2 linked regions of the Homo sapiens genome follow. The protein of the gene in region 2 interacts with the protein of the main gene of each other region in a pairwise test. Each region holds a gene or a part of one and is shown on either strand. Other genes may lie near its edges.

Evidence for each region. Proteins that work in one complex are often made in the same cells at the same time.
Region 1: the proteins of CCDC74B (region 2) and HENMT1 interact in binary tests that used the Homo sapiens proteins (3 or more experiments, as listed by UniProt).

What each region holds. Positions count from the first base shown.
Region 1 is NC_000001.11:108,647,783-108,651,230, forward strand, and holds the end of HENMT1 (small RNA 2'-O-methyltransferase), read right to left. Parts: intron 3,428-3,448; coding exon 3,248-3,427; intron 2,607-3,247; coding exon 2,429-2,606; intron 1,210-2,428; coding exon 784-1,209; 3' UTR 513-783; downstream 1-512. UniProt on the Homo sapiens protein: Methyltransferase that adds a 2'-O-methyl group at the 3'-end of piRNAs, a class of 24 to 30 nucleotide RNAs that are generated by a Dicer-independent mechanism and are primarily derived from transposons and other repeated sequence elements.
Region 2 is NC_000002.12:130,143,184-130,146,932, forward strand, and holds the start of CCDC74B (coiled-coil domain-containing protein 74B), read right to left. Parts: upstream 1,930-3,749; 5' UTR 1,814-1,929; coding exon 1,564-1,813; coding exon of another isoform or gene 1,438-1,563; intron 1,292-1,437; exon of another isoform or gene 1,157-1,291; intron 131-1,156; coding exon 86-130; intron 1-85.

The sequences.
Region 1 (3,448 bases), on a different chromosome or scaffold from region 2:
GAGAATCCCAGAAAAATTTTAAAGCTACTCTTACCCCAAAGAAAAGGTTTTGAACACTATATTTGATAACTTTCTCTTAAATTTTTAATATCACAATTGATATGGTTTGTATTTCTGTCCTTGCCCAAATCTCATGTCAAATTGTAATCCCCAATATTGGAGGAGGGGGCTGGTGGGAGGTGATTGGGTTATGAGGGCGGATTTCCCCCTTGCTATTCTTGTTATTAAACCTGGTTGTTTAAAAGTGTGTAGACCTCCCCAAGCTCTCTTCCTCCGGCTCTAGCTATATAAGACGTGCCTGCTTCCCCTTCGCCTTCCACCAAGACTGTAAGTTTCCTGAGGCCTCCCCAGCTTCCTGCATGCTTCCTGTGCAGCCTGCAGAACTGTAAGTCAATTAAACCTCTTTTCTTTATAAATTACCCAGTCTCAGGTAGTTCTTCACAGCAATGTGAGAACAGACTAACAACAATCAACTCATGGCTTTAACACAAAAAAAATAGGTAAGTTCAAAATTAACATATTACCACATCCAACTTCTTTATTCTTGAGAAAACAAAAAAGTCCAAAATCAAAGGAAAGCACCCGTTTTAAACCCTCATATCTTTCTCAGGGCTCACTGCAGTCTGGCCATATCTCAAGCAGGTCTGTCCAATGGCTTGGAACATAGACTTTTGCAGTGAAACTTTAAAAACATTACTTGAATTAGGATTACACAAAAAAAACTAAATTCTAAGTGAGCACAACTATCGCTGAGACCCTGAAATTTCAGGAAATAAACATGGTTCAAAACTCAAACTGTTCATCAAAATAATTACGCAGGTCAGCCACCACTGCAGAACCATCACTGCTCAGAGGAATTGAGTCAGCAATGACTGATCTCATCATCTCTTCATTAGCACATAAGCGGTTCAACTTGGGATACGCAAGGAGTCTCTGCAGAGGTACGAAAAATTTATCTCCAACACAGAAGGGTGTGGGAGAGTTCTCTATCTTGGCCTTCTCAACCTCTGTGAAGACTGGTCCAAAGCATGGGACAGGGGCCTTTGAGCCACCAATGTCTTTGGGCTTATCACCCCGTTCCCCAGCCTGTTCTTTCCGCCTTGGCAGGTGGCTCACTCTTAAGCTTTCCACTTGTTGGGACACCTCATTAACCAACACAAGTTTAAAGAACCTTTCCTGCTGTAAGCTTGGGTATGAGGTGGTAAAAACCTGAAGGGAAAAAACAAAACACTTACAAGTGTATAATAATATAAACATACATAAATTTTCAAAGCCATCAATAACTTTTTTGCCATGTAAGAATAAATGTACATATTGAATATATGTCAGATCCTACTAATCGTAAATGCCTCAGTTATAATGGGAATCAAATCACTGACACATAGAAATTAACTATCCGATTTGCTTTCTAATGCTAATGCCCAATGTCTCCCAGCCAGGTTTCTACCAAGTCACATGAACCCAGTATTTCTACTTGATATTACAGGGGCAAGGGCAAAAAAAAATGAAAAATGGTTCAGTTAAAAGGGAAAACGTGGGTAAGTGCAGTGACTCACACCTGTAATCTCAGCATTTTAGGAAGATGGGGCAGGAGGATTGCTTGAGGATGGAAGTTCAAGACCAGCCTGGGCAACATAGTGAGACCCTGTCTCTACGGAAAAAAAAACAAAAAACAAAACAAAAAAAAGCTGAGCATGGTGGTGCACGCCTGTCGTCCTAGCTACTTAGGAGGCTCAAGTGGGAGGATCGTTTGTGCCCAGGAATTCAAGGTTACAGTGAGCCATGATTGTGCCGGTGCACTCCAGCCTCGGTGACAGAACAAGACCCTGTCCCTAATTAAATAAAATTTTTAAAGAGGGGGAGGAAGTGTTTCTTCTTCTTCTCTCTTTAAACCAAAAGGGTCTGAGAAGTTTGTAGGCTCAAAGAGTAATGTCCTAAGCCAAGCTGGGGAGAAACTGCTGCTGGCTTTCCTTTTTACTACTGATAATCCTAACAGATTACAAAAAGAGGTTGCTCAACTATTGCTTTCAAGTATTCTGGGTGTTTTTTTGTAGAGATGGGAGATCTCACTATGTTGTCCAGGCTGCACTCGAACTCCTGGGTTCAAGCAATCTTTCTACCTTGGCCTCCCAACATGCTAGGATCACAGGTGTGAGCCACTGTACCCAGCTACTTTGAAGTATTCTAAGACAACCCCAGCAGATCATTCCCTTTAACATGCCTTGAAACACCAAAAGGCCAGGCAGTCTCAAAGGACACCGTAGGCTAACTCGGACAGTAGTCATGGGGCCTGAAGAATTCTCCTAGAGTGAACCACAAAGCAAGGTCATTTACACTCATCTCTACTTTGGGGATTCTTACTCCCCAAAAAAGTTCACCATCCTAATGTATCTCTAGCCCTGATAGCTATCTCACAAAGAATACTCACAGCTTTATAAACATGCTGATCATGCTGCTCTGAAAGACATGATTCTGTTGCCTTTCCTCCATTTTTCCGGAAGATTCCTATCTGGGTACAGTATCCAACATTCTCAGCTCCAGCTGGTGGTTCCCCGACACCAGTAAACTCCACAGAGTAATCATAGCGATTTGCCACATATAAAGCCCTGAAACCAAAACGAGGACAGCAATCATTTTTCTAAATGTAGAGCTACTGTTAAATAAGGAACCATTTCTGGTCAGCAGTAAAAGAGAACATGAAAAATACAATGAACATAAATACTTCTAAGTTACAAATTCCTAACCACCAGTGTATTTATTTCTAAGAGAAGTCAAGGCAAGGATATAGTGTCAGTTTCCAATTTACCCTAAGAATATGGAAGACGAAAGGAAAATTATGGGCAGGGTGTAGGGGTGGACAAGGAGGCAACAAGTGCTCAACCCAACTACCCATTTGGGTTTGCAATTACACCAGAAAACATGACTAAGCCTCAGGAGATATCCCGGGGAGGGGCATGAGGCTCATTCTCACTGTCCCAAACCTTCCCTCTGTTTTGTTCCTCATCTCCATGCCAGTACTACAGATGCCTTCACATAAAAGGTGCCCAGTAACCACACCCCCTTTCCACACTTGCCCAAATGCAATGGTTCCTTTGTGATCTTATTACATACTAAGTCACACATTGGAATCAATTTTATTGGAAGAAAGTACAAAACAATTTAGGTAATGTATGTATATCAATATTTATTTCCTAAGATTTTAAACTCCAACAGGATCCCAAATAAACAAAAACCCTTCTGAACTTACCAGGTCTGAAACTCCATTCTGGTCCACTCAAATTTATGATCTGAATCTCTTAAGGTCACTGATGGAAACAGGGGATTGAATTCAGAGTTTGGTGTGCTGATGACAATCATGGATGGAGACAGGTACCCAAATACCACTTCAGGAAATCTGGCCAGATCACCTGAATCCAAATGTTCTATTCTAAAATGGTTAATGAGAAAG
Region 2 (3,749 bases):
GCAGCCAGGTGGGCAAGGACAGTCTGGAGGGGCTCCCCTGGGTGGCAAGAGCATCCCATCAGGAACTGAAGGGCCCAGTTCTCACCTTTCTTCTGTGATGTCTGATTCATTATGAGCTTGTAACGGAGATCTGAAAGCAAGCACACGCTCTCCTCAGCACTTGTGAAACCACAGCCATTCTGAGAGAAGAAGCCTGGCCTGTCCTCTCCTGGCTGCTGAGCCCGAAAGTCCTGCCCCCCCACTGGCTGATTGGGCCCTGCCCCATGGATCCCGCTCTCCACCATGCCTTTGTCGTGGGTGTCAGGCCAGGAGTGGCCCCTGCCTGTTCCCTAGGCAGAGCCCACCTGGCATATCAGCCTCATCCATCTGAGATGACTGGAGGGCGTCCACACTGCCAGGCAGAACCTGGGCTTTAGGGGTACAGAGGTGAACTCTGGAATCCCTGGCTATGGCGGTGTCATGATCCCGTGGGCATCAGGGACTGGGGGGAGGCTCAAGAAGATATGAGGAACGGGGCGTCCTGAGGCTCAAGAAGACATGGGGAAGCGGGGTCCTGACAAAACAGACGCCTGGTGATGGGATACTCGGCACTCAGGTAAGGCAGCAGCAGGGAACGGGGCGGGAGAGGAGGCCGCGGGCACTGGTGCCCTTGCTGGAGCCCTCCTGAAGCAAGAGCGAGGAGCGGAGCCACATCCCACATCCTGGCGGGCCCTCCTCCTGCTCGGGGCAGGAGGGGTGGGGGAGGAGGGAGGGAGAAAGGGGGGCGTGGGGGTGAGGAGCAGCTAAGGGTGCAGTTGGGAAGGCCCCGCCGGAGGACAGCATGGGCACAGGCGAAGCGGGGACGGGGTGGGGGGCGGGGGAATGCCTGCTCCTGATCCGATGTGTTTAGCTGGAAGAAATTCACTGAGCTGCGCACTCGCACTTGGGCACGTTTCCCTGCATAAAGTTTTTGTTTGTTTGTTTTTGTTTTTTTTGAGACGGAGTCTCGCTCTGTCACCGAGGCTGGAGTGCAGTGGCAAGATCTCGGCTCACTGCAAGCTCCGCCTCCCGGGTTCACGCCATTCTCCTGCCTCAGCCTCCCGAGTAGCTGGGACTACAGACGCCCACCACCACACCCAGCTAACTTTTTGTATTTTTAGTAGAGACGGGGTTTCACCGTGTTAGCCAGGATGGTCTCGATCTCCTGACCTCGCGATCCGCCCGTCTCGGTCTCCCAAAGTGCTGGAATTACAGGCGTGAGCCGCCGCGCCCGGGCCCCTCTATAAAGTTTTTAACAGAGGTGTGTCTGACCCTGCTTGGAGAGGAGAGGACTGGCGGAGTCAGCATCTGAAATGCTGCTGCCCTAGGAGACAGGCAGACAGGTTCGGCACTGCCCGGGGGCCACGCGGGTCTCCCTCTGGGAGGAGGGGACAGCTCAGCGTGGCAGGGCGGGCTTACCGTCCTGTGTTCCCCCTGAGCCCAGGCGTGTGCTGGAGTTGATGGCTGTGTTTCTGTGCTGCGGGAGCGGCAGTGTTGAGTGTGCCTGGGGAGGCAGGGCCGGCCTAGGGCCCCGCGCCGGCTCACCCTTGTTTTCCCGCTTCAGATGCTCGATCTCCTCATGGAGCTTGGCCAGCATCTCCGAGTGCTGCTGCTGCAGGAACTGTAGGCTCTTCTCCAGGTCCAGGTTCCGTTTCTGCGGGTCGCTCTGCCTGAGCTGCGGGCTCTGCGGCCTCAAGGACTGGACGCCCACAGAGGGGCGCTGGCGCCGGCGCCGAGAGCCCGGGGTCGGCGAGCTGGGGGGCCGCGTCCCAGCCGCCACCCCCGCACCGCTCATATCGCCATCGCCAGGTACTCTCCCGCTGCCACTGCACCCCGGCTCAGTGGCCAGGCCGCCCTAGCCTGGCGCCCCGTCACCATGGAAACCGGGCGACGGAGGGCGCCAGGCGTTTGGCGGGGGCGGGGCCTGTCGCTGGCTCTTCCTGGGTGAGTAGTGATTTACAAGGCATCCAGGGCTGGGCGCCGGGGCTCACGCCTGTAATCCCCGAACTTTGGGAGGCCGAGGCGGACGGATCACTTGAGGTCAGGAGTTCCTGACCAGCCTGACCAACATGGCGAAACCCCGACTCTACTAAAAATACAAAATTTAGCCGGGCGTAGTGGCGGGAGCCAGTAATCCCAGCTACTCCGGAGGCTAAGGCAGGAGAATAGCTTGAACCGGGAGGCAGAGGTTGCAGTGAGCCGAGATCGCACCGCTGCACTCCAACCTGGGCGACAGAGACTCTATCTAAAATAATAATAATAATAATAATAATAATAATAATAATAATAAAAGGCATCCTTTCCAGCCTGGATGGAAAGTGAGCCCCTGTCTCTATAAAAATTAAAAGAAAAAAAACCCGGGCATGGTGGCTTGCGCCTGTAGTCCCAACTGCTCGGGAGGCTGAGGTGGGAGGATTGCTGGAACCCCGGAGGTCGAGGCTGCAGTGAGCTATGATGGCACCACTGAACTCCAGCCTAAGTGACAGAGTGAGATGCTGCCTAAAAATAAGAGGCCGGGCGCAGTGGTTCACACCTGTAATCCCAGCTACTCCGGAGGCTGAGGCAGGAGAATCACTTGAACCCAGGAGGTGGAGGTTGCAGTGAGCCAAGATCGCGCCATTGCACTCCAGCCTGGGCGACAGGGTGGGATTCTGTCTCAAAAAAAAAAAAAATAATAAATAAATAAATAAATTTAAAAATAATAAAAATAAAAAGTCTTTTTTTTTTTTACAAGGCCTGCCCTCAAAAAAAAAAAAAATCACAGCCAGGCCAATCATAATTTTGCCAGACACCAACAAACCTGGAGGAAGGGAACATAGCTAACCCCAGCCTGCTCTGGCTCTCCTTCCCCACATCTTACTGCCACATCAGCGGGGCTCCTGTATAATAACAGGGGATACAAGTGAAAGAACTGCTCATCTCAGAGCTTATTCGAGAAATCTCTAGGAAACCGTAAAGACAACAGGGAGACAAAAACTAAGACACTAGAGGAGGTTTAAGCCTCTGACACCTCCAGTTAACAAACAGCACACATGGCACAACCCCTAACCAGACCAACATAAAACTTCACACAGAAAGTCCATTTACTGGTTGAGCATGACCAGCCCTCAACAAAAACTTGCAAGGCATAATAAAAAACAACACAGTTCGAAGACACAGCAAGCATCAGAGCCACACTTAAATATGGCAGAGATGTTGGAATTATCAGACCAAGAAATGGAATACGACTATGATTAATATGCTAAGGGCTCTAATGGAAAAAGTGGACAACATGAGATTACAGACTGATAATGGGAACAGAGAGGTAGACGTTCTAAGAAATAATCTAAAGAAAATGTGAAGGCCAGGCAGGGTGGCTCATGTCTGTAATCCCAGCACTTTGGGAGGCTGAGTTGGGCAGATCATTTGAGGTCAGGAGCTCAAGACCAGCCTGGCCAACATGGTGATACCCCATCTCTACTAAAAAATACAAAAATTAGCTAGTGTGGTGGCATGCACCTGTAATTCCAGCTACTTGGGAAGCTAAGGTGGGAGGATTGCTTGAATCCAGGAGGTGGAGGTTGCAGTGAGCCGAGATCATGCCACTGCCCTCAAGCCTGGGCAACAGAGTAAGACTCCATCTCAAAAAAAAAAAAAAGAAGAAGAAAAGAAAAGAAAATGTGAGAAGTTGGCCAGGCACAGTGGCTTACACCGCTAATCCCAACACTTTGGGAGGCCGAGGTGGGTGAATC